Linked DNA regions of Homo sapiens. The protein of the gene in region 2 interacts with the protein of the main gene of each other region in a pairwise test. Each region holds a gene or a part of one and is shown on either strand. Other genes may lie near its edges.

Region 1 (7,687 bases), on a different chromosome or scaffold from region 2:
ATGGGCAATAACTTTTTCATGCCTCAGCCTCTTCGTCTGCAAAATAGAGACAGCTACAATATCTGCCTGGAGTCTTATTATGAGAATTAAATAAGCTAATTCTTGTAAATTGCTTAGGAGAGTGTTTTGTACATAATATACATTTGGGGGAAGAGGGCTAAAGATAGAAACGTCTCTGAGCTGGATATCACTGTCCTTTCCCCAGCAGAGGAGGTCATCAAACTCCTTAGCCTCTCCCATTTCTGAAGCTCTCTGCTGCCCCCTGCTGACAGCTGCTTGATACTATCGGTGTAACTTGGTTCTCTCCTCTGCCGACTGTAGTTATCTCTACTCCTCTTCGACAAGTACCCTATTCTACAACCAGGCTAAAATCCCTATCATTCCTCTAAAATTCCATGCTTCTGTGCCATAGCCTGTGCTGCTGCTTCCCCCTAGCATGCCCTTTCTCCCTCCACATCTACCTATCAAAGCCATGCCCACCTCAAGTGCCATGGCATTCACGCAGCCTCCCTTTGTCGCTCCCCAGAATGTGCTCTTCCCATGCATAACCCTCCTCCAGCACGGTCCTCACTCCTCTCTTACCCATTCCCCTCTGTGCTGTAATTAGTGTCGAACTCGTCTTACTGTACAACTGCTTCTTCCTGCTATAGGATAGCGTCTAAAGTCCTTTTTGTCGCTCAAATCCTGCAGGATCATCTTTCCTCGTTCTCTGATCCAAGCCACATTGGTCTTTCAGTTTTTGCAACACTCTGTGCTCTCTCCTGCCACAAGGATTCTTCTAAGCTGCTGCTTCTGCCTGGGTCACTCCCTCCACTCACTCTTCCTCCAGCCCACCCTCAGATCTTAGCCCAAACACTACTTTCCAAGAAAACCCTCTTTGACCCCACTTCTTGGCCTGATTACCTGTACATAATCTCATAGCAATATCTATATATTTTCTAACAAAAAATTCATCATAGTTTTAAACTTCTATTTTTAGTCATTTGATTAACATTTGCCATCCCTATAGGACAATGCGCTCCGTGGGGGCAGAAGTTGTGCCTGTCTTTCTTTACTGCTGTGTTCCTAGCTACTAGCATAATGCCGCATACCCAGTACATACACAATAAATATGTGTTGAATGAATAAACAAAGAAGCCACATTAAACAGAATCTTAGCCACAGTGTCAAAACATATGTATTATATATATTAAATCTAAAATCTTATATTTATTCCATTTCTACCATTCATTTTTAAGATATTAAATTATAGATAGACAGACAGACAGCAAGGGTTTCTCTGAAATACAGCAAGGAGGCAGAACAGTTCTGATCCTTACCTTCGGTGCTCATATCTGGTGTTGGCATCCAGATGTAGGCCAAGCCTTCTTCCCTATATAGTTTAATCATAGTGTCTGGAGTCATGGGCTCTGGGTAGCGGTTACAGCCTGAGGAATTCTGTACAATATCCCATTCAGTCTGGAAATTCATTACAGCTGTAATCCCCAATTCATGCTTCAGTTTGATGGTTACATGTTCCACCTGACGAGGGCAGCTACCCAGCCAGATATTTGGTAGAATTCTAATGAGAACATATGGAGACAACTATCACTAGTGTTGTTCTGATTTGAGGTTTAAGGAGCTGCATAAAACATGTAGTATTAAAATATAACTAACCTTTAAGTCTGGCACAGGAAAAGCTAGATATTTTAGAATATGAACACCAATGTTATTATTGAAAGAAAAAGTACTGGTGTTGCTGCTTTGGGGAAAGCAAGTATTTCAATTAACTAGAACGCCAGGAAATGGACATTTGCAAACCAAATCAAGCAATATATTAAAATAAGTCTACCAAGTTGTACTTATTCCATGAATGCATATATGGTTCCACATGATAAAAATCCATCAATAGACTTCAAATGCTAACAAATTAGAGGTGAAAATTCCTGTAATTATATAAATAAATTCTGAAAAACAAATTTCAGCAGGCATTCCGGTTTAAAAGTCTATGCAAATATTTCAAATAGTATGAGACTTTTAACATATGCTAAAGAACAGAAGCTAAAAAACAACAGACTTCTTTTAATAAGATCAGAATCAACATTAATTCCATTAGTACCTAGCAGTGTTCTATAGGTTTCATCTAATGCTGCAAGGTAAGAAGGAGAAATAGCAATATAGTTTCCTTTTGGAAATTATCATTGAGGTTTATTATAGAAAAAAATAATGAAATGAAAAAGTTAAAAACTCAGAAAAATTTTAATAACCCTTTAGACAAGAACCCAAGGAGAAAAAACATAAAACACGCTTATCTGGCCGGATGCAGTGGTTCACACCTGTAATCCCAGGACTTTGGGAGGCCAAGGCAGGCGGGTCACCTGAAGTCAGGAGTTCTAGACAAGCCTGGCCAATTCTACTAAAAATACAAAAATTAGCCAGGCGTGGTGGTGGACACCTGTAATCCCAGCTACCGGGGAGGCTGAGGCAGAAGAATTGCTTGAACCCGGGAGGCGGAGGTTGCAGTGAGCCGAGACTGCACCACTGCACTTCAGCCTGAGTGACAGAGTGAGACTCCATCTCTTAAAAAAAAAAAAAGTTTATTCTCTCCTGTAGGGTAAGCAGAACTGAAGTTTTAGAAAGACAGTGGTGGATCTTCATTAGGGAACTGGGCAATTGGCTTCTCATGTTAACAATGTTGACAACAACAGCCAAAAGGAAAAATGTAAAAACCAAAAAAGAAGCTGGCGCAGTGGCTCACGCCTGTAGTCTGGCACTTTGGATGGCTGAGGCGGGGATTGCTTGAGGCCAGAAGTTCCAGACCAGCCCAGCCAACATGGCAGAAACCTCGTCTCTAGTAAAATTACAAAAATTAGCTGGGCGTGGTGGCACACACCTGTAATCCCAGCTACCTTGAAAGGCTGAGGCCTAAGAATTGCTTGAACCCAGGAGACAGAGGTTGCAATGAGCCAAGATCACACCACTGCACTCCAGCCTGGGCGATGGGGCAAGAACCTGTCTGAAAAAAAAAAAAAAATTAAAAAAAAAAAAGATTTCGTATAACATTTAGTAACAATTGTATGATGTTAGGCCAAGTTATTTATCAACTCTAACCTGTTGGTGTACTCATCTTTAGAATGGGTCTAAAAATAACTCATAAAAATCTTGTAAGGAATAAATACAATTAATGTACCTGAATTGGACTGAAACCGTGGATGCACAGTAAGTGCAAGCGGATTTCATGTGTAGCTATAGTGATTTACTTATTTTTGTAATTTACTTTGCATTGCATTGTAAAGATTATTCAGTTAATTCTTCATTGTTTCCTATATTCTTCATTTGAATGCTACAGAGTAGAAGATACCCTATTTTTTTGTATGAAAGCTAGCTTTTTTTGTTTTTTGCTTTTTTCCTTTTGGTGGTGGTTGTCATTGTTGATGTTAACAGGAGAAGCCAATTAACTAATCCTCTAATGTGGTCATGACCCATAATCAGTGAAAATTATCTCATAAGATCTGGCACTATCTGTCTAAAGCCTGAGCCCTGCTTCCCCTGCAGGAGAAGAACAACTTTTTTTTTTTTTCTACTTGTGTTCTTGTCTAAAGGGTTATTAGGAATTTCCTTGCAGAAATCCTTATTGAGGATTATTATGGGAAAAAAATGATAAAAGAAAAGTTAGAAATGGCAAAAGACTTAATGGTGATGGAAAGAGAGGCATGAAATCCAAGGCCTTCATCTTATCCCTGGATCCAGATAATTCTTAGATATTCCACTGGACCCAGTGTACTGAGAGAAAGACCTTGAGCAAGGACACTTGCAGGGTGCCCAAGAGCCGAGCTTCATCAGGACCTGGATAGCTGAGTATTCGGGGGAAATGTCACACCCACTTGCTGATTGCCCCTTCCCTCTGGCTGTTGAGTGAGACCTGCCTCTAACTAGATGTCCCATCCCTCTTTCCAGATCTTTCAAAGATCCCTTACCCAGGGACCTGCTGGATGCCTAGTGAGGTGATAGTGCTGGGCTCACGTATGTATACTTTGGGGTTCAACTGAGCACACTAAAGCTCCTAAGCTGGAAAAGAGGGAAGTGGACACTTCCGTTACATAACCAAGAAATAGAAACTATTATAAGACAGTAATTTTTATTTGTTTGTTTGTTTTTTTCAACTGGCAAAATTTTAAAGAGGACTGGTAAAATATTAAAGAGAATTTCATGACAGGCAAGCTAAAATCCAAATACCACTCAGCATTTTCTTGAATATTGCACTCTTTGAGTGGGTACTAGTTAGTATTTCGCTAGTCGGTAAATGCCAAAATAAAATGGCTGGCTGATTTTTCACACAGGATTGCATAAAAGCTCAAGAATAGTTCATAGAGATACACAAAGGGTAAATTAGGACATTTGAGCCTGCAATATAAGAAATCAGAGTCAGCATATCCCAAATCAGAGTCAGTCTATAGAGTCACATGTTGTTGCTAAAAGAGGTGTTATTCTATCATATCCTTCAGCCCTGGCCTTCAAATGTTTTTAAGGTGATAGGGAAACTCAGAACAAGTCAAAGATAAACAGGCCCAAAGCCAGTAGCTTAACACATATATCTCACACATAACATTTCTGATGGAAATAAGCCCTTAAAATATACATCCAGACATGGTGGAAGTCAGAGTCCATATTTAAGAAATGAGTATGAACTAATTTCTGCTACTTTAAAACAAGATGTTCTAAACCTAGAGACAGATAACTAAAGATAAACTCTGAAAACAAACACTATATTGAAAGATAGAAAAGTAAGGTTATAAAGTGATTTGTACTGAATCATTGTATGGGATGCAGAGACAAAGACTGGGCCTGTTGGAAACAAACACATCAATGGATTCTGCTTAATCAGACAGCTAAAGTGCCCTTCATGTGCATCCTATTTCAGTTTGTTTTCCAAAAGTAGGTGATATATTTCTAGTTATAGGATTCACTGGGGGTAACAAGATACATGATATGCTTTCTAAAAAGTAATTAAACTTTTACTCATCCATTCAAAAGAGGATAATTTGATACCATTAAAAATTCATTTTTACTCATCTCATCTCAGTTTTAGTCTTCTTTTGGTATCAATGTTATTTTAAACAATTTTTAACATCAGGATTTTTAGGGTGAAAAGAAGCCTGTTGACATATGAGATTAGAGAATAAAAATTCTCTGTAAGAGTAGTTTTAATGCAAGGCATACCAAAATTCAAAGATATAATGGAATAGAAGTTATAGCTTACAATTATAAGTTATATCATAAAACTTCCAGAGACTTGTTTCATAAATAATCCACTATCAATCATGAACTCAAGAGATTTCTGGCAGCTCCACTATAGACTATTTGGAGGTAAAGAGACGCCAACTAAACCAACAGGGTATTGACACTCAGTCAGCTCAGGACAGAAGTTTTCAAACCTGGCTATGCATTCAAGTCACATGAGGTACTTTTATAAAAACATCTATTACCAGGATCCATCTCAGAGATACTTATAGAGAGGCTTGGGAGTTAGGCCTATAATTCTGTAGGTTCTTTGATTTTTGGTCTGTTTAGAAATTAACTAGATTGTGTAAGCAGCAGATTCCAGAACCACCACCTTGGACCACCAGTCCAAGGTCTCCATATGCATGTAAGAGAAGCTTAATATATAGAGCCCAATATCTTTTTTAAATATCAGTAAAAAATATGGAGATGAGAAAAAATGGGCTTCCTCAGTCTGACATATCTACAAATTAAGGTGAGTTCTTATCTTTGTCCAAAAAATAGTGTCAAGACTACAAATAATTCCTAGAGTGAGAAATTATTTGTTATGAGAGACAATGTATATCCATGTGTTTAATGCACAGTACCTTCTAACTGGTCAAAACTAAATCTACTTCTGAGCCACGACAAATATTTAATATAGTCCTATGCATAAGAATGTACTTTTGTAGAAAAAAAATTATTAACTAGGGTTTTGACTATTTCTGCTGTGCTATAATCAGATTATACATAAATAAAATCTACCCTAGTAGTATTACAACTTAGCTAAAGACCAGGGGAAAGAATAGATGGCTGACATTCTGGAACCTTATTTTCTTAGACTGCAAATCAAAATCAATTTAACTCATTTGAGTGAATCTGGATTTGTGGTTCCAGGTAACCATATCATAATACTACAGTATTTGTTTCACCCATCAGGCTTGGGCCTGTGGTCCAACAGCTACTGAAGCGTATGAATCAGACGCTCAACTGTCAGTCAAAGGAAGCCTCACTGGCACATCAGACAGAATGACCATCCAAGCACTTTGTAAAAATCACCACAGGGTATCGACAGGAGAAGTGGGTGTCTAAAAGACAAAAGGTATTGGGAGACAAGTCCATTCAATGGACTTCACATTACAGCTTCCATCACTAATGGCCATGAGAAATGGCAGAATAACCTTTTCCTAAAGGTGAAAATCAGCATTATTTTGTGTCCATCGAAAGAAAAAAAGATGAGGAAAACCACAGGAATAATGGAACCAGCTTTTGTTTATTTATCACACCTAAAGACTCCAACTGTTGAACTGCAGTGCCCTCTTCCTAGCCATACAAACGGAGCACCATTTCAAAAAATAGAGAAAATCGATTTTGCTGAAGCTCTTAACAAAACCCAGCTAAGAATTTAAAAGGAAAGAAAAAAAAGCACATTTCCTAAGTTGGATAATTGTGTTGCATTTATCTTATTTAATATTTTACGGGCAATTCAATGAGAAATTAAAATATGAACTGGCTCTTAAATAATGAGTAAAGGGAAAAAAAGTCTATCCGTCCTATAATTTAGATCTCATTAGTGGGAAAGCAAGAGAAACATTAAAATCAACCTCTAGTAAGCTCCAGGCTTCAGTAGCACATACAGCTCCTTCTGCTGAAAATTTGTCCTCTAGCATCCAGTGTTAAGTTATTAATGCCAAACTTCTACCCCAAAAGGGTGCTTATAACAGGCTCCAGTTAAGGCTGAATAACTACTCAAAGACAAATTCCAATTTAGAAAGTGATACTAATTAGCTTCTTTATTAAACCATAGTTTTATTATAGTTTTTTATGAGTCATACACTATGTATATAGAGCACAAGTTAATTTCTGTAAGTCCAGTTCATTTCTTACATTTTGGGGATGTACTGTGTAGTTTAGAGCCATATGAAAGCAAATAATTTTTGACAAAATGCTCTTTTATTTTCCATATTATGAAATGCCATATCATTAATTATAAAGGCCTATTATGTTGACTTGTGTCCCCCTCCCCAAACTCCTATGTTAAAGTCCTAACGCTTAGGAACTCAGAATGTGACTGTATTTGGAGACAGGGTCTCTACAGAGGTGATCAAGTTAAACTGAGGTCATCAGAGTAAGCACTGACCCAAAATGACTAGTGTCCTTATAAGAGGGGGGTTTCAACACAGACACAGAGGGAAGACAATGTGAAGATACAGGGAGAAGATGGCTTCAAACAGATGCTGCCACTCAGCCCTCAGAAGGAGTCAACCCTGTGGACACCTTGATCTCAGACTTTCAGCCTCCAGAACTGTGAAATAATAAGCTTCTATTGTTTAAGCCACACTGTCTGTGGCACTTTGTTAAAGCAGCCTTAGCAACCCAATAAAAGTCTAAACATTCAGGCTTAAAATAGAGTCATTCAATCATCCAGACTCTTTTCAAATATCCATAC
Region 2 (8,575 bases):
AGCCCACTAGCCAGCCTCGGACTGCCAAAGATTGTTGACTCTAACTCTGTCTTAGGAGACGTCTGGTGGAATGCACAGTCCTGGGGTGCCATCTGTGTCTGCACCCCATCAGGCTTCCATTGAACATGAACAATTCTATAATTCTGACCATCATTGTTGTCCCAAAAGACTTGCCCATTAGCATGGTAAGAAATGCAGAACTCAATTTTCTGCTCAGTTGGAATGACAGGGGGTAAGTCAATGGCAAATGAGAAGGTATCACTATCTGTGCCACCATACACATTTTTCATATAGACACAGTCTACGTCAGTGTAGTTTTTCCAAGAATCGAAAGTGATACGGATCTGAACTTTCTTCTCAAAACTCACATTTTTGACTTTAACAGTCCCTGTCACTGTTCGCTCTTGCAACGAGCAGTTCTCCAGACAGACAAAGTTCTTCTGAAAGTGGCTCCGGAAACTTAAGTAATCGGTTGAAGGCTGAGGGAAATCTAAAATCAAGTTTTTCTCCTCGTGGTGTTTTAAGGCAGAGGAGATATCATTAAGGTCCAAGAGATCAAACTGCAGATCCCACGCTGGTTCTTCTGGGAGGTCGGAGAAGACATGGATCGCAGTGAGAGAGAGGCCCTTGGAGTCAGCAAACACAACGCGCTTCTTGGCTTGGTTGTGTGAGCACTTCCAGTCATTCTGTGATTTGGCTTTGTGTTTTATATTGAGACATGATTTCAGGGGCTTTAATTTATTCACAAAATGTCGTCGTTGAAATTCATCGTACGGGCCCAGGAAACTCTTCACAGGTGGTGAATGTGCCAAGCAAAGCCTCATGGCCACATCCACGGGCATGACCGAACTTGTCAAAGGACGTGGATCTAAAACCTGGATCATTCTGGAATGCAAAAAGAAGAGGGATTATCACCTGGATCGGAAATGCTCTTCCCCAGTGCCAAATACATATGTACTATTTTTGTGCTGACTGAATTATAGCCAGTGCACTAGATATCAGGCAGGTGCTATCATATGTAGTAAAAGAGAACAGTATTAAGTGATCAGATCTTCTATGTCTACCTCTACCCTTGGCCGGCTAAAGGCTATTAATTGCTTAAAACACTTAGAGGGTGATGGGGGTCTCAGTTTCCCCATCTGAGAAATAAAAGGGTTCGATTTGATTATCTCCAAGGCAGCCTTGAGAACTGTGTGCTCTGTTCTGGACCAGTGGTCCTCAAACCTGTCTGGTCACTATGTCTAGGGAATTCATTTTCTTTCTTTCTTGTCTTTCCTCCTTTCCTCCTTCCCTCCTTCCTTCCTTTCTTCCTCTCTCTCTCTCTTTCTCTTTCTTCTTTCTTTCCAATTCCTGGGACTCAGAACTACTGAGGCAGAACTTCTGGGGCTAGGGCCAAGGGATGGGTATGTTCTTAAAGCTTCCCAGGTGATTCTAATGACCAGACAGGTTCAGGAGCCACAGTTCCAGACCCTCTGCTCCCTCTGGCTACGTTGGCTTATTTTGCTGCTAAATTGATTGACACTTCTCTGGTAAGGTAATTCACTTGAAAAAAAAAAAATAACATGCAACAGTTTTGAGAGTGAGAAGGCTAGAGAAGAAGTCAAAGAATCATCTTTGCACTTTGATTATCATGCTCTTATTTTTCACAAATAACCACTGAAATACAAGCCAACAATTCATATGCACTTAAAAACTATATAATTGATAATTCACCTAAAGAGATGCCCATGACAAGTCCACATTTAAGTGGAAAAACTGATTACCTGAAAGTTGGAGTGTTTTAAAATATACATTTTATATATACAAACTTATAAATATTGAAAAACTCTATAGGAAATACACCTTTCCTAATAATTTAATAATTATTATTTCTGGGTGATAGGATTATAGATTATCTATTTTCGTTTTTGTTCTTTTTTGGCATTTTCTAATAGACATTTATAAGTAGAAAGACAATAAAACCATTTAAAGTTTTAAACATGACTATGCTCAGCAATATTAAACCAAGAAGCATCTATAAAGAAGACTTTTCTCTGACCTTTAGCCCTCATCATATATTTCCAAGCTTATGGTATTAAGATTTTTTTCCCTATCTTAGCCTTACAAGTAAGAGGTGTGTGTATACTGTACACGACATTTCTCAGTCTGGCTTTAGTAACTCTCCTCACAGCAGCTCTAAACATGTATGCAAGTGGTCATTATCACAAAAGTGTGTAATAACACTCGCAGAATTTACTGTGTTAGCTCTGGGGTTTTTCTGGGAGATCTGCAAACTTAGAACAAACAAATGAAAGCTAAAGCTATATTTGTGGGTCTAATAATAGTTAATAGGCAGGATTTTTAGAGAAGTCTTCTGCTAAGCTATGTCTGGAGAAGCTATTTAAAGTAGTTTTATGGGAGGTTTTTTTTGGTTTTTTTGTTTTTTTTTTTTTACTTTTTGCATTTATAGAAAGACAGTTTTAGTTTGGGTGATTTCCTTGGAACTTTAAGTCCTGGACAAGAGTTAAAAGTAATCGTTTGCTCAAACTCTTGAGATTTTGCTATGGCAAACTGTGATAAGAAGGACGAATGAATGCAAACGTCGTCCTGTAATTTTTTTCCTCCAAGCTAAACCACCTAACCAGCAATGTCAGAGTGCTGTTCTCACCACTTCAGCTGCCCGAGTCTTTGGGACATTTGTGCAGGACCAAAAGAACAGCCGCATCCATGAGAAAATCCTAACTCAAGCTGATTCACGTTAAGATAATTTCTGCTTTAAGATGCTGATTACTAAAATAGGCTCTGCTTAAGAAATAGAGCCAAATTTCTACACCTCCAAGGCCTCTCGGTTGCCAGATTCAACTACGCAGTCAGTCCACTTGTCCTCCCCCTGGGGTGTCCATTTCCAGAGATGATAGAACTGAAACGCCCCCCAACTTCCCCACAGCTGCGCGTTCCCCTGTGTTCCTAGCGCGCAGAGTTGCAGCGAACCTACCTGGTGCAGCTCATTAGGCAGAGAGGCGGCGGACCCTAAAAGCCAGCACCCGCTGCCTGCACAAATTCGAACCACAGCTCCAGGCCTTGCCCCCGCGGCGGTCGCTGGGAGAGACTGAGGGCCCGGCGCCTAGAGGCCGCTTATCTGCTCCCAAGCACGTGACCCGATCCCTGGGACCAATCGCCGGGCCTCGAGCCCCAGGGCGCGACCAACCAGCGCCCAGCTGGGGCGCCAGCCCTCGCCCCGGCAACGTGATCGCCCCGGGGCGAGACGTGCAGAGAGCTATCTGGGCATCGCGGGGAGGTTCTGGGACTCCGCGGCCAGCTGGAACCAGCCGCGTAACGGGAACCCTGGGCTAGGGGCCGGGCAGGCACGTACCGCATGCAGCGGGCGCCGGCCAAGAGAGAGCGCAGCCAGCCTCGCCCAGGCGGGGCGCCAGTGCCTCAGGCTTGGGGCGGCTGTTACTTGGGAATAGCTTTGTGGGTCACTGCGGGTGAATCTGCACACAGAAGATGTGGCTCAAACCGAATGTGTATCGCATTTGAAATGTTTATATCGTTCATTACCCGGTGTATCCGCATTTCTCCCTCACCTTAGCCTGCGCGATCCCAAACTGGCTGCATGCTTTTCGATTAGTATGAGTTCACAGATGCACCACACAGTAGACAGCTGCCGGGAATTACCAACTTATCTAACAAATGTTGTTAGGAAAGCATACGAGCCCCATAAAACACCAAGGTGGCATTTAATTAAAAGACACTTCGTATTTCTGTCTATTCTTCAATTTTCTCCCCTGCGGGGAACACTAAAGCCGGAAGTGAAATGACCCTTTTCACACATACAGCCGGTCAAGAGGCAGCAGTCAACCCAAACCCCTTACTCAATTCTGACGTCCTTTGGCAGTGGTGTGGAAATCAAAATGTTAAAATAAAATTTAAAAAATCACGCCGTATGTTTCATGGGCCTTCTGAGCCACTCACTTTCGCTGAAGTTTCATTATTTTGATTAGTTTGAAGAATTTTTAGACCATCATTTACAACTGTAAAATTAAATGTCTAAGTCAAGTCTAAATTATTTTTATAAAACCCACATCCTAGTTTTGCTCCCCTAATTGAGCTATCCATTAGTCAATTAAAATATACAAAAATTCCTATGTCTTTTAAACAACTGTCAAACAGTGGAATTGTTAAAATTATTAGAGTGAAGAAAAAAATCACACTGAATATCACTGGGAAAGGGACTTCATGCCTGGGTTTTATTTTTGAAATGAAATATCTAACTAATGGCAGGTCTTCTAGCCCCTTTAGCTCAACCAAAACTAGCTGGAAGGTCTTTGGATTGACACTTACTAGCTACACGAATCTAGGCAAGTTCTAACCTCAGTTTCCTCATGTGTAAAACAGAGATAGTAACGTTCTGAAGATGAAGTAAGATGGTGCCAATGAACAGACTCAGCACGATGCCCAGTGCCTGTGTTCCACCCGGGCTAGTTCCCAAGTTTCTACTTGATCTCTCAGCTAGAGTTTTTACTCTATCACCTCAAGGCGCCTGGTGCCTGAGCTAAAATATTGAGAATAGCTGCTGCTTGTTGAGCCTTTACTCTGTGCCAAACACTATGTGCTATCAATTCAATCCTCACAACAACCCTATGTGATATGTCCAATTATTAATCCCATTTTAGAGAAAAGAAAACGGAGACACTGAATGGTCAGGAAATCTGCCCAGTGGATCACTTGAGGCCAGGAGTTCAAGACCAGCCTGGCCAACATGGTGAAACCCTATCTCTACTAAAAATACAAAAATTAGCCGGGCATGGTGGTGCACACCTGTACTCTCAGCTACTCTGGAGGCTGAGGCAGGAGAATCGCTTGAACCCGGGAGGCGGAGGTTGCAGTGAGCTGAGATTGCACCACTGCACTCCAGCCTGGGCAACAGAGCGAGACTCTATCTCGAAAACAAAAAACAAAAAAAAAACCTGCCCAGGTTCTCACAGGTAGAGCAGGGATTAGAGCCTGGCTGATACCAGAGCAATAACCGCTGCACCATATTGTCTTATTTTAATGACCCATCAATGGTTAGAATTATGGAGGTAGGAGGTGATAGGCATCAAACTCTTTATTTCACAGATGAGGAACTGAAAGCTTAGACAGGTCAAGCTGCTTGCCAGGGGCTGGCTAGGTCTGAGCCAAAACTAGAACCCTGGGTATTCTTTTCCTCTACCCATGATTATATGTTGAGCTAAATAGTAAATATTACCAGTTAAAACTATGGAGAAACATGAATAACAATTTATGGTGATCGCATTTTGAGGGAAAGGTATCCATGCATAGAAAACAGAATGTGCTCTACAGAAATGTGAACAGTTCATTTTGGAATGGTGAGATTATGAGTGATTAAAAATGTCTTCGTTGTTTTGCTGCTCTGTTGTTTTTCTTAATTTTTCTACAATGAACATACACGACCTAATTAAGAAATAATTTTTCAAGGGCGTTAAAACTCTGGGATTCAACTAACACATATAGCGTACTGCTAGGTGCCAAGAACCGTGGTGGAAATTTTCACATGCTTGTGCCATTTACTCACACCACCCTTTCAGCCTGTTCCATTCATACAGCTTTCTCTCCTGCCCCCTGGTGTTGACTAATGCCATAGAAGTCACTCTCCCTTTCAGCTCCTTCAAATGGAAGATTCAGGGAGACCATGCTTTCTCCTAAAAGGACTCAACACTCACTCAATAAACCTCTAAATTGGATGATCCAGGCTTTTCACTTCTGTCTCCTTCCCAGCTTTTGCTCCCCTTCATTATTGGATGAGAGAAACTAGGATGGAATCAGTGTTCTTAGTTGTAGGTTGCACCAATGAAGACAGAGTAGAAAGGAATCGTGGGGAGTTGTACTATTATTCGTAGGATTTCTCCCACTGTGGTTTGGCAGCATCTAAACATTGCTTGGTCCTACCCATCTTAACAATCAATCTATCAGCAGGAAATTATTGAGCTATGCAGTAGTTCCAGCTCCATGCCAGGGGTTACAAAGTCTGAGCAGTCATAATCCTTTGACCTTGAGGAGGTTACAATCATTATTACAGAAAAACAAATTCATAGAATACCCAGCAGACATTTTAAGAAGCTACTAAGCAAGGAGCTGATAATTGTGGGGCTTACACAAGTGGGTCTCTTACAGCATTCACTCAACACGTTGCCTGAGAGCTGCCTTTGGAAAAACACCCTGGGGGGTTGCCAAGTTGCCAACTCATTTTCTGCAAGCTTGTCTTTTTTCAGTGCCTAATCAAGAAAGTACTTGAGAATTCAGCCTCATAGTTATTAATATAAAAATGTCAGTACTTTAACCACAGTTAGTGGTAACTGAGAGAAACCTCGTAAGTGATCTTGAAGATCACTTACGGAGTTTCAGTGAAAGAGTCAGGGAAGTTGCGAACTGGTTTTTTTTTTTTTTAATTATTATTAAAAGGAGCAGGTTTTGCATTTTGGAGAACAAAAAAGGTGCCAATTCATTTGTCTCAGTTAATAGTAAGCGCTCTTGTACACTATTTTCTTCTTCCTTCTTTAGCTACATTCAACAGGAACTCCAATATTAAGTAAAAGGATACAACCTGAAAAACATATACTGCTTACTTTGGGCTCGGCACTGTTTTAAGCACTTAGAAATATTAACTCATGTAATCTTTATAAGAATCCGGTGAGGTAGAAACCCATTTCACAGATGAGGAACGTGAAGACATCGAAGGTGCCAATTGTCCAAGATCACACAGCTAGTAGGTGACAGGATCAGGTTTCAAGCCCCTCTAGAATCCACGCTCCTAGTATGTGAGTTGCTCTGAAAAAGACAAGCACCACACTGGTAGCTACCAAGACCAAAAAGCAGCTCCGAAGGCCAAAGAGATCCCGAAAGGAGAAGGCTCGCTGTGGAATATCTGTGGAAGCTTCAAGGAGGTAGCGGGAATTGGGAAGGCCAGGAAAATGGGAAGAACTTAAATATGATGTGCTATCATCTTTAGGGCATTTAGATGACTAGAATACAACTTTGTGGCTCAGCAAATAAGAGAGCAAATAAGATCACCATTGAAACGGTGCCAGCCACCCACCGTTCCACTCAAAGGGCATATTCCCAGAGGCAAGTGGGGAAGTGAAAGGACTAACAAATCTGCTTGTTGCCAAGTAGACTATGCTACCAGCCATTCCGTTTGCACTAAAGGGATTTTCAAGTATAATTTTCACTACTGGAAATTTTTTAGTTTTTACCTCAAACCCCATTTGTAAAATAGTCCAGTAAGAGCAGACAATGGTCTAGGTGTGGTGGAAAAGCATAAGTGTTAGCAAAATAAGGGGTTAAAGAAAGTGCAGGCCTGGGTGAGGTGGCTCACACCTGTAATCCCAGCACTTGGGAGGCCAACGTGGGTGGATCATTTGAGGTCAGCAGTTCAAGACCAGCCTGGCCAACATAGTCAAACCCCTTCTCTACTAAAAAATAAAAAAATTAGCTGGGAGTGGTGCTGGGCACCTGTAATCCCAGCTACTCGGGAGGCTGAGGCATGAGAATCACTTGAACCCAGGAGGCGGAGGTTGCAGTGAACCGAGATCGCGCCACTGCACTCCAGCCTGGGTGACAGAGTGAGACTCCCTCTCAAAAAAAAAAAAAAAGAAAAGAAAAGAAAGTGCAGGATGCCGCCTGAAACATGTAGGTATCTCAGGTGAGGTGAGGAAAAGGAGAGGGGAGGGCGGATGAAAAAAAAGAATGATATAACTGTATCAGGTTGACTTAGTGGCAAATGGATCATGTGAATATTACACACATTTGCTACACATGCTTCAGGACTTTAGAGAAAGGAGAAGCCTCTGGGGGTCAGGATGGCCAAAGAGGACCAGGACTTATTGAGTAACTACAAGGAGAAGAATTTGGCTAAAGGTGAGGATTCTGGCTGGGGAGCATGAGGAGGAGAGGTCAAAGGAGAGAGGTTTTTTTTTCTAGGCAGACTCTCACCTGTTGCCTAGTCTGGAGTACAGCAGCACTATCTCAAACCTCCGCCTCCCAGATTCAAGTGATTCTCCTGCCTCAGCTTCCCAAGTAGCTGAGATGACAGGCATGCGCCATGACGCCCGGCTAATTTTTGTATTTTTAGTAGAGACGGGGTTTCACCGTGTTGGCCAGACTGGTCTCCAACTCCTGGCCTCAAGTGATCTGTCCACATTGGCCTCCCAAAGTGCTAGGATTATATAGGCTTGAGCCACTGTGCCAGGCCAAGAGAGAGAATCTTAAGTGTAAAAATTTTTTTAAATCTGCTGGATTATCATGAACAAAATTAGAGATCTAAGTACTACAAAATGAAATAAGCAGAGAATAAAATAACAATCTGACTGTGGGGGAGGTACCATCCTTTTGTGTCGATAGTTCCATCAAGTTGCTGCAGTTTCTCTGTATTCATCGGAAGATTAGGGTGAATAAACAAGTAAGTTAGAAATAATCCATGCAGACATTATTAAAACACCTACTGAAGGGCATTTTAAAAGGCTTTAATGTGAGTGTATGGAAGATGGGAAAGAGATGACTTGTTCAGGGGGAGAATTAGAAACTAGCCAAAATG
Region 3 (7,687 bases), on a different chromosome or scaffold from region 2:
TCACTGCATTAGCTTATTTTTTCCTCATTTTTAGTTCTTTCAAGAATCATTAATTCCATGCTTGAAAATGTCTGAATGGCACTAATGAGGATAAGTTTTTTAATCTTTTGAATTCTTAATGTGAACTAACAGGAAAAAAATCTCAGAGCTAACAAATTAGAGTTGGTAAAGGGCCGATTTATAAGTGTCTCACAATTTATGGGTGTAAATCAAAATGTTAACTAGTACAGTCATAAGCTGTTTGTACAATCCTTAGGCTTTAACTTCTTTGGAATTGGCAAGCTAGGCATTTGACATGTATTTATATAACTGTACGGTTGTAGTTATTAATGATCTTGTCATTATTGTTGATAATGAAAAAAGATCTTCACTATAATTTCTTCGTATAATTCTTATAATGAAACAAGTAAATACTATTAACTAGAAAAAATCTAGTCTGCAGTTAGCCCACACACATCCAAACTTATCTCTGCCAGCAGCAAAAGAAAGCTTGAAAACCTTTGCCAAAATCAGAAGTTTCCCATTTAGATTACATAAGTTTCTGTTGAATTGAAATATATTTAGATAACATTTAAACCATTGATCTTTTGGTATTAACTCTCAGATGTTTCATAACTTTCTGTCTTTTTAGTATTCAGGGATATTATGTAAAGTTTTTCCTGCACTGAATCTCTGTGCTTGAGCCTACTGAAATGATCCCCCTAAGCCATGCTGCCTGCCTTTTGTGTTTAATGTTTTTTTACACTGACTTATCTCCTTCGTGTGTTCACCTCTCCCCCAGAGGAAGACAACAGAACAGTATAATTTACAGTTTGTACAGGTTAAAAAAAAAAAAAAAGGTTGTAAGGTGGGGGGGTGATATTTTGTTTTAAAATATTTGGGTAAGGAAAATTTTGTCTTTAATATTAATTCTGTAATGCTTGACCAGGCATGGTGGCTCAAACCTGTAATCCCAGCACTTTGGGAGACCGAGGCGGGCGGATCGCATGAGGCCAGGAGTTCGAGACCAGCCTGGCCAACATGGTGAAACCCCGTATCTACTAGAGATACAAAAAATTACCCAGGCGTGGTGGTGCATGCCTGTAGTTCCCGCTACTCCAGAGGCTGAGGCAGAATTGCTTGAACCCGGAAAGTGGAGGTTGCAGTTAGCTGAGACCACACCACTGCACTCCATCCAGCCTGGGCAACAGAGCAAGACTCAGTCTCAAAAAAAAAAAAAAAAAAAAAAAACATAAAAATAAAAATATAATCCTTGACTGTTACCCAGTATTTTTACATTATTTATATTAATATCATTTGATCTTCACAGAGAATTCTATGGAGTACTGTAATATTATCCTCAGAGGGAAACTGAGGCATCTATGGATAGACATGCAGTGTGGCTTAGTGATTAAAGCTCTGCATGCTGGAAGCTGACACCTGGGTTCCAATCCTGACGCAGCCCTCGCCTCTCTCCGACCTTGTGCACGTTGCCTAACCTATCTGTGTTTTGGTTTCCTTATCTGAAAAATGAGAATAGTCTCTACCTCATAGGGTGTTGTGAGAATCAAATGAGTCAAAACATGCTAAGTGCTTTAAATAGTGCCTGACACAGAGTAAATGCCCAGTAAATATTAATTCAATATTTTTAAAATGTAGAAGTGTGTTACGGCTAGAAGGGGATTTTGCTGAAAGTGGAATCTAAACCTTGCAATTTTACATCCTGTTCTGTTCTATCACTTGGTAGAGAGTAACAATTACATCCCGATTTTAGTTTACACATGTTAACTAGCAGTTTAGCATTCATCAATAAACTATAGATACTTAAAAGCTTTAGCTATCAGAAGATCAGTCAAATTATAGGTAAATACTGAATACATTTAAAGAAAATGTAGAGGGTTTTTATTATCTTTAGTAACTCAACTAGGTTAAAATGAAGAAATTTGAATTTAAACAATACAGTAGTTTCCCCTTATTTGTGGTTTCAGTTACCCACATGGTACAGTATGATAAAATATTTTGAGAGACCACTTTCATGTACGTTTTATCACAGCATATTGTTATATTGTTCTATTTTATCATCAGTTATTGTTGCTAATGTCTTACTACACCTAATTTATAAATTAAAGTTTATCACAGGTATGATAGTATATATAGGGCTTGGTACTATCTGAAGTTGCAGGCATCCGTGGGAGTCTTGGAACGTATCCCCCTTGGGTAAAGGGAGGCTCTTGCTAACTTATTTATGTCCTTACTTATTGTGCAGAGGACTTGAAACAGTAAACACTGATGTCTGTATGGTGATTATAGTTCACAATTATTTTCATTTCTATTATCGTAATTGATCCATACACAAACTCATGTGAGATAGGAGGGCAAGTATTAATATCCCTAATTCACAGATGTAAGAAAAGTTGCAAGAATTTTGGGTGACTTTCTTAAGGGAAGTAAGTGACCAAGTTAAAACTGAAAGCAGAACCCAAATATGTGCATATTGATTCAAAACACAAAGTTGATTTAAAAATTAGCACGCAAAACATAAATCTAAAATATTCTTACTATTCAGCAAATTTTTATTGAGTAGCTACTATATACCAGGCATTGTTTTAGGTGCTAGAAATATAAAAAAGGAGTAAAATAAAGTCCCTGTCCTTGTAGAGTTTGTATTTTTTGTTTCTTTTGTAATTGCAGCAAATTGAAAATCCCTAGAAAATGGGGTTTACTGCTTAATTGGCTTCTACTTAACCGAGACTATATCTCTAATTATTTTCTTTGATTCATAAGGTACTTTAAGGATTTTTTTTCTTAGTGCCTCAGGGTTACTAAAAAGATCAACTGTAATGGCTTTTGATATAAATGATAAAAAAACTGATTCAAGTGTCCCATTTCAAATGAATAATTTGTTTTTTAACTGTTTTTCATTCATCAAATGCAGAATTTACCAAAACTGAATTATCTTAGATTTCTAGTTATTTATATATTAACTTTTTGTTTATTCAGAATCATTTTTCTGTTTGTTGGAATATTTCTAAGAGCCTTGGAAAATCTCGAGTAAAATTTTAAATGAATTTGTATAGTGTTCTGCCTCTTTCCAAAGGTATTTCTCAAAATTGGAATTGTTTTATTATTGAAGTTGAATGACTTCAGGGAACTCTAAAATGCAAGATGGAAGCTTCTGTTTGGTTTTTTCTTTCCCTTTGGTAAGGTCTTTTGCTTCCCATCCCCTTGACCCACCTTTGTGCTGTCTGTTGTCCAGTCTGCTCTCCTGATCCCTAAAGATGTTTCTTATCTAGGCTACCATTTATGTGGGTAAAAGACAAGGTAGAAAATACTCTTCTGTATCTTGTATCAAGGGTTAATCTAATATCTTCATCACTTTGTTTTGAGATATTTTGGAATGTTATCAACAATTATTATAGATGGAGCATGTATGTCTTAGGTTTGGTGTTAACTGTTTAACATGCATTATCTTATTCAATCCTCACAGCAGTTATAAAATGTAGGTGTTTTAGAGGTAAGCATATTATAGGTCAGGAGAGTTCAAAGAGTTAAACTACCAAAAGGGGATCTGAACCCAATTTCTGAATCTAGTGTTAATGATCTTACTATCCCAAACTCCTACTCCTGAACATTCTTAATCAATGATCAACAGCTTATCACTTGGCAGCTTTGAGCTCAACCCTGGTAACCAAGTCATACTATACTGAACATAATGAAGCAATAGAAGCAAAAAAAAAAAATTGATATTCTGGTTAGCCTTTGAAAATTTCGATAGCTTGATATATAAATCTCAGAAAAAGACACTCAGAAAAATGAGAAAAGGAATATGAATAGAGAACTTTATACACAGCCCAAATACTGAATAAACACAAAGTTTTAAAGGTCAAACTTAATGAAGAAATGGAGGTTGTTAAAATTACGATGCTATTTTTAATTTATGTATTTCTAGCAAAGAGAAGAAACACAGCTTGTGGGAGTATAAAATAAAGTCTTTATAAAAGAAGGGTTGGCAGAATGTGTTGGAAATGTTGTATATCTTTATAACTTTCTAGGCCCAGCATGGTGGCTCATGCATATAATGCCAAAACTTTGGGAGGCCAAGGAGGGAGGACCACTTGAGCCCAAGAGTTTGAGACCAGCCTGGGCAACATAGTGGTACCGTATCTGTACAAAAAAATTTAAAAATTAGCCAGGTGTGGAGGCATGCACCTGGAGTCCCAGCTACTGAGGCTGGAGTATCTATTGAGCATAGGAGGTCGAGGCTGCGGTGAGCCATGTTAATGCCACTGCACTCCAGCCTGGGCTACAGAGTGAGATCTTAGATCTTTTCTCAAATAAATAAAGTACAAGCAATAAATAACTTTCTACATACTGTATAGCAAATAACTAAAAAGGCAAGCAGGTACATAAAGATAGACGTTTGTTATACTTTTTATACTGCCAAAAGTTGGAAGTAACTTAATTGCAGAGTAGGAAATTTTTAAATAGGTTGTATATATAGTAGGATATTTTGCAACTATTAAAAATCATGTGGACTAGTATTACATGGGAAAAAAAGCAGATTATAAACAGCATATATAGTATATTTTATAAAACTACATGTTAAAAATGTACTTTACACATAAAGAACAAAAATGTATGGGAGGCCGTTTGTTTTAGACTGACCTGCACTAGGCACCAGCAGACCAGACAGAATTAGAATGGAGGCCCTTGTGCTGAGTGCCACATAATCAAACTGAACTTTGAATTTGAACTGAAATGAGCCAGTTTTCTAAAAAAAAAAAAAAAAAAGAGAGAGATTTCAGTCAACCTGAGTTAGTGAAATAAGACAGCCCTCTCTGTTTTAACCTGTAAAGAAAGTTTTCAACTTTAAAACAACCAATCTACTTTTTGTCCCTTATTTCTGCTTTCTTTAAACCTTTTCTGCCTAGAAGGCTAACCTCCTCTGCTTAGCTCATTAGAAGACCCATTTTATAGAATGAGCTGTTGCCCATTCCTAGAATCACAAATAAAAGTCAATTCGAACCTTAAATTTGTGCTAATTTTTTCTTTTGTTAACACCAACACTGGCTATTTCTTTGTGATGGGTAAAAGATAGTTTTTACCTCTTATTTCTATATTTTTCAAATTGTATGAGTAAACATTTTTTAAGCTTTTGTGATTTGAAAAAAACTTTCTTGAAGGTGAACTAAAGAAACAACTTTAAGACCTGTTACTAACCATGGATCTCTAATGATTGGAACAAAGATAGAAAACCATGACTCTAGAATAGAAAACTCTCTCTTCAACCCATGAAATAAATGCTTTGGACAGCCGAAGACTAGATTCCTCAGATGGTGGAGCAGAGTCTTATTTAAATCTTTTTCCTTGCTGAATGACTTACAAATAATACTGGGTATAAAAGGAGAAAATGGGAACATGAATTGAGCTTAAGGAATCAAATTTTAATGAATTTTTTCTAATTCAGGAAACATTTATCAAAGCCAGGATCTGAGGATAAAAGGCAGGAAATAACGGAGGGAGTTCAAACATCTTTGAATTAAATTACTTTAATAAATAATGTATATATACGATGAAGGCACAGAATCATAATAGCAAACACGCCATGCTTTCAATGTACCAAGCCCTGTTCTAAGTACTATGCACCGATTAACTTACTCTCTAGAGTAAGCCTTGGGGTAGAGACTGTTACCAACATATTAATAGCATGGAGGTAAACAGCTAGAACTCTGGAGCTGGCTTCCTGAGTTAGAATCTCGAATCCACCAATTACTAGCTGTATGATCATGGGCAAGCTGCATATACTCTTCACTGTTTTCTATAAAAATGTGGACAATCCTAGATCCATGTAGAATTGTGCTGAAGATTGTAAATCATTTAGAACAGCACATAGTGGTGTTAATAATGTTTTAAAAGCCCCGGAATATTAAAGCTAAGGAAATTAAAGTACAGAGATTACTTGTAATTTACCCCAAGTCACAGTGAGTGGGTGGAAGAGCCAGATCATGCTCTTAGTGGTTATCATAAATTGTGGAGGAAGACCCAAAGCAAAGCATCTTGGGAGGAGACTGGTGAGCTGTCTTGCTGGATGATAAAAACTTATCAAGATAAAGAATGGTATGGTAAGGGAGGAGCTCAGCACAGGAATGAGGCATGAAATAGAATGGTGTACATGGGGCAGTGTGGGTAGTTAGGTATGGTTGGGACTTTGAGTGAGTGGGAAGGTTCATAATGATAATTAAGGCTGGAGAGATGGGCAGGAGCCAGGCATGGAGGAACTTGTACTAAATAATACCTGTTTTACCTTGTGAATGGTAAGGATATAGGTAGAGTAGAACTGAAGGCAGGGAGATCAGTGAGCAAGCTATTGCAATAGTATTAGAGATTTGGGGAGCCTAACCCAGGATTACTAGAGATAGGATTGGAAAAGGGGAGATTTGAGGAATATCATAGGAGGTGACATTTACAAAGTTGATTCTGATTTGGGAAGTTAGTGGTGTCAATAATAGAGAATACAATGAAAAATGCTTTTTTGGTGAAGAATGCTGAGTTTAGAAAAATTATGGCAGGCAGTTGGAAATTTGATGAATCTGAAGTTAGGGTGAAAAATCAGGACTAAAGATAAAGATCAGGGAGTTAAATCATGACAACTAGCACATCTGTCCCTGCTTCTGGTAGATATGGGTACAAGACCAGAGATATTAAGTGATTTAGAATAAGGTCACAGAGTTAAGTACCACAGTCATATTCAATACAATTAACCCAAACCATGTTGTCTTTGGATTTTGTCAATGTTGTCAAAATTTTGACAACTTTTGAAATTTTGTCGATTTCAAAAATGGAAAATACATAATATGCCAGGCACTTGCTGGGCAATACAGATACCTGCAGTAATGGAGTGAGCACCAGCATCTTCCCTGATGGCGTGTGCAGTGAGGTGACTCGTCTGTAGTGTCCTCAAGGTCACGTAGAGAGCATACAGTAAATACTTGTTGACTCTTTCAAACTTAAGTTAATGATACAGTCAGGACTGATAGCCATTTTGTTGTCTTTCTTGAAAGTTTACGTGGAAGGCAGACCTTGTGTATGCTTTTCAAAGGGGCTCATTTAGCGCACTTGGCGCTTAAGAATTTGAGATCAGTGTGATGGTCCTAATCTTTTTTTAAAAGTATTGGAAGTTTGAACTCACCTGATGGGGTTGGTTTTTTTTTTTTTTTTTTTTTTTTCCAAAAAAATAATCATTCAAAATAATCGGTTAACATTTTCAATAAGAGCATTACATACAAGGAGTTAGGGAACAAAGAGTTTTAAAATCTGGCTCTTTTTATCTCTACTTAGGGCGTGCATCTTCTCTTCTTACCCCAACATATACTGACTTTTTAGGACCTCCTTTAGGGAGATCTCAATATCCCGAATTTTTCTGTGTGGAGAGGGGAAGGAATATGTCTTTTTTTGCTTTGGTCAGAGTGGATACATTTTATAGTTTGTTTTTTCAAAGACGGGTCTTCTGAGTCACTTCTTTCACTGCTGCCGTAAAGAAACTGTATAAAGGTGATTGAGCAGTGAAGGCATGGATAAAAGGGGAAATATTCAGCAGTTCTGAACGTGCATGTCATCAAATATAAAGGAGTGAGAACTTGATGTATAAGAAAAAATGGAAGTTAAAAAAAATAAAAATCCAAGAATGGGCTGCTTGTTGCAGTAGTGA
Region 4 (8,059 bases), on a different chromosome or scaffold from region 2:
GTGTATAGCTGATCTGCGATTTAATACAGTAAAAAAGAAAAAACAATCAGGAATATGTTGTGGGGCTACAATCAGCATTTTAAAATGAGATCAGGTCCTGCTGAATGTTTTCCCCTAATGCAGAGAAATTCTTGCCAAATTTTTACTTACACGTTCATTTGACACTAAAAACACTAACCATAGTTATTCTTGCTAGGCAGCTTTACAAAATATCACTAACTAGCATCTAATATCACTGAAAATCCAGGTGGACAAAATTTTCTTTGAAGATTAAAAATAATTATTTACTAGAAAATTCAAGTCTGCTCTGGACAAGTCTTTCAACAGGTCTGGATCTGGGAAGGAGCTGAAAAACCTAGAATATTTAAGAATCCCTTGGGGGCACTGTCAAACTAAATATGCTTCTGTAGGATGAAGAAGTACTGATAGAATGTGTGCTGAACATAGGACAGAGAGGAGGCTGAAAAAGCCTGAAAGACACTTGTTTAGACTGGGAGCTCCTTGAGTGAAGAGACTGTGTCTTATCTTAGGATTGCTGGTGCCTGGCAAGGAGGAGGTCAACTTGTTAACGCTTGCTAAATTAAGAGAGAAACGTATCTGGACTACAATTCTTACCCGCCCCCCCCCCGCCCCCCCAAAAAAGGAAAACAGATTGTACAAACCAAATATTTAATTTGAATTCACAAAAACAAATGGAATCACTTATTTTTCCCCCAGTGTCTTTTCTAGTAACCTTGCACAACCCACTCGTGAAGTTTAAGTACCTGTAATCATATAAAGGTGCGTCTAATTTAAAAGGATACAAACATTTTAAAACATAAATCTGTTTTATGCCTACAAAATATATGGAAAATGAAATAAAATATAAATAAATTGAGATACAAACATATTTTTAAAATATTTAAATTTACAAGCAAAGTTTAAAATATATAAAAATATGCCGGGCGCGATGGCTCACGCCTGTAATCCCAGCCCTTTGGGAGGCTGAAGCGGGTGGATCACGAGGTCAGGAGTTCAAGACCAGCCAGGCCAAGATGGTGAAACCTCCGTCTCTACAAAAATACAAAAAAAATTAGCCGGGCATGATGGCGGGGTGCCTGTAATCCCAGCTACTCAGGAGGCTGAGGCGGAAGAATCGCTCGAACCCGGGAGGCGGAGGTTGCAGTGAGCTGAGACCGTGCCATTGCACTCCAGCCTGGGCGACAGAGTGAGACTCCGTCTCAAAAAATAAAAATAAAAAAAAAATAAAAAGGAGTAGGCCTCTACTTCCCAAATGTAAACAAGACATACACATTTTTAAATTAACTGTATTTCCCTCATAAAACAGTTACAAAATACAATTATTTTCAAAGCAAATTTCTCAAAGACCCAGCAAGATGTTCACATCTGAAACAAAGTCTTAGGTAGTGAACACTGACTGCAGGCACCAGGGGGCCTCCCAGGAATAACTTGATAGTAAAGGAAAAGGTAAATAAGAGTTCCTGGTAAAACTTTTGCTTCCTATTCAGTCTTAAGACTGCTGGATGGCTTTCACATCTGGAGCAAATACACAGTATTTAGTTACAGAACAGGTACTCACAGAACTTGGGTTTGAGATACCGACACATACTTTGAGAAAAAGGAATTACCCCTCCCCCATTACAATATTCTTTGATGATTTTCCAAATATAAGTACATACTGCTTCACTCTAGCAATTATCTTAAGGTAATTTGAAAGCAAACAGTACATATGCAATCGCTGGACGGCGGCTAACAAAGAGGCCTCTAAATTGTTTAAAAAGGATTAAAGGCTTTTCTACACACTCACAAAACAATTATTGATGACGAAAACTTTAGGGTAGAGGGACTGTTTGGCAGAAGACTGCATTTAACTTTGAATAATATCCTGCAATGAATCAATACATTTAACTCCCGGCTAGTCCACCTCTTCGTTTTCCCCCCTTGCCTTCCCACCAACATAAAACTATTCAATAAGAACACTTGAGCCCGGAAAGTTCAAATGCTGCGTAGACCTACAAATACCTTTCGAATACAAGACAGGCTTTAAAAATAGATTTTCACTAAGTTTGTGCAGAAATTAAGCTCTGCTCAAATCAAATGCAAAAGCCAATCCCTTCAGCAAACCCATCTACATACATCACATTTCTTAGGTGCATCTTCAACCTGATCAAATATCTTGTCTTACAATTTTTTTAGGCCAAGTAACAAACGGTAGATTAATTCCCGCTAATTTTATCCTCTCTTTAAGAAGAATCCATTCTATATAGCATTGTGTAAAAATGCAGAGCAGACGAAGCAGTCCTGTTAAGGACAGGTTTATATATATATACGTAAAATTCACTCCCGGAACGACAATCGGAGGCAGCCAAGGGCAATGCACAAAGAGAACAGAGAAGAACAGTGATTCCACGGACGCACAAAGCCCAGTGGCAGGCATCCTCTCCCCATCCTCGGGTCACCGGAGGCGAGCACCACGGCGCGCGGAGCCCGGCGGCCTTTCCGAAAGGCTGTCTCCCGCAGACCCGCTCCGCACAGCCTTCGGCCGGCGGGCCTGGCCCCCGAGGGTCCGCGGGAACGGCCCCCTCTCCCCCGATCTCCCCTGACCGCGCTCCCAGAGGCCGCTCCCCCGCGCCCAGAGCCTCCTCGCCCCCTCCTCGGTTCGTCCGCCGCGCCGCGCTCCCAGAGACTCGTCTCGGGGCGGGAAAGGGGTCCCCTCGCGTTCCGGCGGCAGACGGGGACGCAGGGGTCGGCGGCGGTGCCCGACCTCCCTCTGTCCCGCGGCCAGGCGCGCACTCACCCTCCAGCAGCCGGGTGATGAGGCTGTCCACGTTCAGCTCCCCGTCCGCCATCTTGTCGGCACAGACTCTCCTTCCCAGCAGCGGGAACAAGGGCTTCTCGGCGGCGGAGGCTGCGGCGACGGCTCGGCGTTCTCTCACCTACAAGTCACGCGGCGTTTCGACCCCGGCTCCAACTCCCCCTTTTCCCGGGCCCTCCCCCCACCCCCTCCCCGCCGGGTAGCGAGAGCGCGCGCACACTCGGAGGCACCCACGGAAAATAAATAAATAAACAAGAGAGGCCCCCTCGAACAGGGCCGCGTCAGACCCAGGCCGCCACCTCCTCCTCCTCGGCACCGCCCAGCTCCGCAAAGCTCACCAGCGCCGCCGACGGCCCCACCCGCAGCGCCACTCACTCCGCACGTCCCTTGCGCGCCGCCGCGTCACGCAGCTCTCCGCGCAGGCGCGCGGTGCGCTCCCCGCCGAGGCTCCCCTCGACGCCTGGGCCGCCGCGCAACCGCACTGGAGCGGCTTCTCCCGCTGCCGTCTTCGCGCAGGTGCGTCGCCCTCTCTCCACGTCCACGGCGCCGAGTCTCGCCACGGTGGCGCAGGCGCCAGGGAGGTTCCCCGGCTTTGCCGCGCGGAGGAAGTCCCGGTTACGCAGAGCGCGCTGGGGCAGGGCTGACCTTCCCCTTTCTCTACTTCACTGGCCTCCTCCAGACGTGGTGGTTGCGCCCTTTCGGCCTCGCTTTCCGTTTTTTGGCTTCATCCCCTAGATCTGCAAACAGTTCCTCGTGTTTCTTCCGTTAGCCGGGAAACGCGAACTGCAGCGTTTGGGACCCGGGTTTGCGCGTGTGGAAAGCAAAAGGGGTTACTCTGCTGGAGTTCGACATTGCAAATAAAGGTCTTTATCCCCGGCGGTTCTACAAAATTAGTTCTGCAGGGATTCTGGTTGAAAGAAGCGTTAAAGTGGGCCTTGTAGGAGTCAGCAATAATCCAATTTTACATGGGTGCAGGTGGCTGCCTGTGTCTAGCGCTTTCACACATCTCATATCTTCATCCACGCCGTGGGTATTTTTTTTCCACGGTGTGTTTCTGTTGCTGCCTCCAGTATATTGCTTAATCATCCTACCTGGTAATTATTTATGCATTTTTCTCCTACTCTCGACTCAGCTCCTAGGGAATAAAAACACATTAACTTATCTTTGTGCCCACAGCACCCACCAAGTATTTCCATCACGTAATACTGCCTCTAGAAAGGCAGGAGGAGAAGCAGTCACGCTAAGGATCTAGGCAAGCCAGATCTTTTGTCCGGTTTTAGGAGGTGGCCAGCCCTTACTTATTCCACAAGTGTTTTTCCAGAAACTCAGACTTGATATTGCCTCAAGTCCAAGGCAGTGTGCTTCCCCCACTCACATATCACTAATAGTAGCTAACATTTGTTCAGATCCCTGTATGTACTCTGCCACTGTTTTAAATGTTACACCCGGGTTACCTCATTTAATCCTTACAACTGCCCTGTGAGGTAGGTACTATTATTATCTCTACTTTGTAGATGGGATTCACCGAGGCACAGACGGTTAAAAAACCTAGCCCAAATAACACAAATAAACAGCAGAGCATGCAGTGCTAGAGTCTGCATTCTTAACAATTGCTATATTCTCCCTCTCCGTGAATGTGGGCTGAGATGCTGAAACAGGCATGTGCTGTGGGGGAGAAAAAGCTTTGTCCAACCAAGTGCTTTCTAATGTCCAGATGACATAGAGCTAGGATTTCCTAATGTCTTTTTTCCCCTATTTTTCTCTCCATTTCAGGGTTGAGTTTGTGCATCGATTGTGAACACAACAGGCAGCAGGCTATAATGGTGGTCCTGGCTGGAGTAGTTTTCACAGACTTCAGTAATCTGTGGAGATGAACGGGCAGTTCTCTGTAGTTTTCACAGATCACTGCCAGTTCGTTTTGAGGCCTTCAGGAGTGAAGACCTGGCTCATCATCACTCTTTGTTGTTTTGTTAAATTTATTTACACCCTACTTTATTCCAGAGGAAAGGATTTAACGTAGTTTACATAAATGTGTACATCAGGGTAAATTAAAAATAAGTACAGAGAAAAATAGGACAAAAGAAAACCGTGAGTGTGAAAGATAAGATTAAGCCAGCAGTTTTGTATGCAAAATGCATGGTGTAAGGTCCTATTGGTTTGCTGGAGGTAGGCCACACATATGACTCTCAGTTTTCTAGCAACCAAGAAAAAGATCAGTTGCAATCGGAGTAGGTGTTTTGGCTAAGCTGGAACTAGGACTTGAATATAGCAGCTTGTAGAGTTATACCACTTGCCCAAATCTCTTCCATGAGCCTCTTTAAGTGTAACAGAATGCCTGGGAGCACGTAAATGCTCCTACTTAGATGCCTACTTAGCCTCTAATTTTCATGGGGCCCATGAATCCCATGAAAAAGAACTTTGAACCCTGTCCACAATTAGAGTTCAGGTATACGCAGACATGTTTAAAGACAAGGGACACCCAAAGGAAAGATTGCACAGAGAGAAAGTGAGCATCCGAGAGAAAATCACCACAAGTGAGGCAGAGGGAGGCCGGTCTCAGCAGAGTTTTGGAGGTCGTGAGAAGAAGAGGTAGGAGATAGGAGAGTGGTTCCGAGTACTTGCCTGCTGATGTTACCTTCTCCACCCCCACCAGGTTTTCCAGTGCCTGGAGTCTTGGGCAGGAATGGGCCACTGTAAGAAAGAGCTTTATCACTAGGGCCTCAGCCAACTTTTCTGTGGGATATCCCTCCAAAATAATTAAGAGTTCAGAATGCTTCAGATTTTGAAGTGAAACTGGTACATATATTAAGTGTTACTTAATAACCCGATAGTTTCTAGGGCAGCTCACCATAATCCCAAGTATTAGCCACCACCCTCACCCCCTTCAGAGTAAAATGTGTTTCCTGAAGGAAGTTGGGAAAATGAAGAAAAAAAATACAAAAATCACCTATAATCTTACCAGTCATAGATGGCAGTTTTCCTGTCTTATTTCTGAATAATGGTTGTTAAACATTTGCCAGCACACCATAAGGCTTAGGGAGGCATCTGGGTCATGCATGTTAATATCCTTGGGTAATTCCAGAAATCTCTATGAAGGGAAACTCCTGTTATTTATCTAGACTTCCTGATTGCAAGGGGTTTGGGCATCATGATTTAGGGGTCTTAATAAAATTATTATTTTATTTTTACTAATAGATAATGTCTGTGCCTATCAGATAAAGGCAAACCAGTGCTCAGAGGAACCCAACCATCTCTGAATTGAGACCAGAGAGCTGTCTCTATGGATAGTCCTTAGAGAAGGCATTTCGGAACACAGTAAACAGCAGCCTGGTGACTCCGGTTAGTAAACGCAGCAAAGACTTTCATAGGGATGTTTTTCTTATATGCCTGTCAGTATTAGCCAGTAGCCAATCTGGTGTGAAAGTGAGTAAGTTTAGGTAGCAAAATGTGGAGGGGGTGATATATAGTTTTTTGCTGCTCTGGCTTAATCCAAGATGACTTTTAAATGAATGAATCAACATTCATTGGGCTGTCCTTCCATAAATATGATTCTTCTCAATCAAGTGTTTAATAAGTCTTAAGTAGTGGTAAGTTGAAATTTTACTAGTTGTATCTGGAGGTCAGCCATTCTTTATATCGCATGCATTAAGCTTTTATAGTCAGCTCAATTCAAGAAAATTGGAAAACCAGACAAGGACATATATGCATCATTAGGAGGCCACCTCTCTCAATACAGAGCCAGGCCTAGGTGGTACAGCCAGGCAGGGCCAAGATTTGTTCTTAAGATTTAGTTTTGGTTTCATTTCATTATACATATGAGAATAGCCAAAATTATAGCTAAGCCATAAGGCATGTCCTCAGCCAGTTTAGTCCCCCAGAATTATAAGGCAAATATAAATAAATGCCTCCTTCCCTGCCCTTGGTCAGTAACCTCCCCGGTGGCCCCAACCAACTCTCTCTTCTCTCTCTCTCAGTTTGTCTTAAGCTAACTCCATAGTACATCCGTATCTTTCAAGATAAAGTGATTGAAAAATAAATGTCTAGTAATTGAAGGAGTTAACTGGCTATTTAGAACTGTTAACTATAAGGCAATTAAAGCTAGGTGAACAGCTACCACAAGTAATGACTATTTAATTGTTGAAGAGTTTATCTGTGGCCTTTTTTTCTTGTAATTAGATTACAGGGCCAGTTGCCTTTGTTACAATAAAAGCAAGTCATCTACACAGGTAAGAATGTTTCTCTTTTATTGCTCCCCCCTCCCCCCATCCTGCTCACTGAAATGGATACCAGGAAATAACTGTTTGATGAGGGAAAGTATACAATATGTGAATATTTGTTTCAAATGAAACAGTGTACTGTAAATGTTTTGTTTCTTGTTGCTCTGTTTCTCCTGTAGTATATCCAAATCACATATAATTCACCTTTTCAGTTGGAGGTTTACCGCTAAATGGCTTAATTTTTTTTCTTTTTTTGAGACAGAGCCTCACTCAGGCTGGAATACAGTGGCTCATTCACAGCTAACTGCAGCTTTGACATCTCAGGCTCAAGCAATCCTTCTGCCTCAGCCTCCGTAGTAGCTGAGACCATAGGCATGTGCCACCATGCCCGGCTATTTTTTTTTATTTTTAGTAGAGACAGGGTCTCGCTGTGTCAGGCTGGTCTCGAACTCCTGGGCTCAAGCAATCCTCCCACCTCGGCCTCCCAAAGTGCTGGGATTACAGGCATGAGCCACCGCACCTGGCCCTAACTGGTTTTTATGTCTCTGTTTCAATTGGGTTTTGGTAGATAAGACAAGGAAAGCATTACTTTTTTTATGTAGTTATAAAATGAGTAGCTTCTCATAATATATAAGACCACATTAAAATTAATAGCATATGTCTGTTAAAACTAAAGCCAAACTATTTGTGAGCTGTGAAATATATTCATCAGAGTTACATCCAACACCAATAGGTCTTTTATATAGGAAACACTGGTTAAATAGAATATTTATTAATTATTATTTAAATCTTGATTTAAACCAAATCCAGTCTATCATAATAAGTTCTTAATTGAAATGCTCTATGGTACTTGTTATTTAAGAAAACCTTACAGTGAATAGACCTCTGAAGCAAAAAGAATAATGAACCAATTAAGTATTTATGAAACACTTAGTGAGTTTGAGTCTGTGTTGAAGAAGGCATGACTTCCCAACTTTCAAGTTGTTTAATGACTATGTGGGAAAATGACCACAAAATGACTTGGATA

Evidence for each region.
Region 1: the proteins of PPP1R3C (region 2) and EPM2A interact in binary tests that used the Homo sapiens proteins (3 or more experiments, as listed by UniProt).
Region 3: the proteins of PPP1R3C (region 2) and LONRF1 interact in binary tests that used the Homo sapiens proteins (3 or more experiments, as listed by UniProt).
Region 4: the proteins of PPP1R3C (region 2) and PPP1CB interact in binary tests that used the Homo sapiens proteins (3 or more experiments, as listed by UniProt).

What each region holds. Positions count from the first base shown.
Region 1 is NC_000006.12:145,633,926-145,641,612, forward strand, and holds part of EPM2A (laforin), read right to left. Parts: intron 1,562-7,687; coding exon 1,320-1,561; coding exon of another isoform or gene 1,234-1,319; exon of another isoform or gene 1,155-1,233; intron 37-1,154; coding exon of another isoform or gene 17-36; exon of another isoform or gene 1-16. UniProt on the Homo sapiens protein: Plays an important role in preventing glycogen hyperphosphorylation and the formation of insoluble aggregates, via its activity as glycogen phosphatase, and by promoting the ubiquitination of proteins involved in glycogen metabolism via its interaction with the E3 ubiquitin ligase NHLRC1/malin.
Region 2 is NC_000010.11:91,629,982-91,638,556, forward strand, and holds the start of PPP1R3C (protein phosphatase 1 regulatory subunit 3C), read right to left. Parts: upstream 3,091-8,575; 5' UTR 2,989-3,090; coding exon 2,975-2,988; intron 886-2,974; coding exon 1-885.
Region 3 is NC_000008.11:12,744,840-12,752,526, reverse strand, and holds part of LONRF1 (LON peptidase N-terminal domain and RING finger protein 1), read left to right. Parts: intron 1-7,687.
Region 4 is NC_000002.12:28,746,915-28,754,973, reverse strand, and holds the start of PPP1CB (serine/threonine-protein phosphatase PP1-beta catalytic subunit), read right to left. Parts: upstream 3,145-8,059; 5' UTR 2,850-3,144; coding exon 2,798-2,849; intron 1-2,797. UniProt on the Homo sapiens protein: Protein phosphatase that associates with over 200 regulatory proteins to form highly specific holoenzymes which dephosphorylate hundreds of biological targets.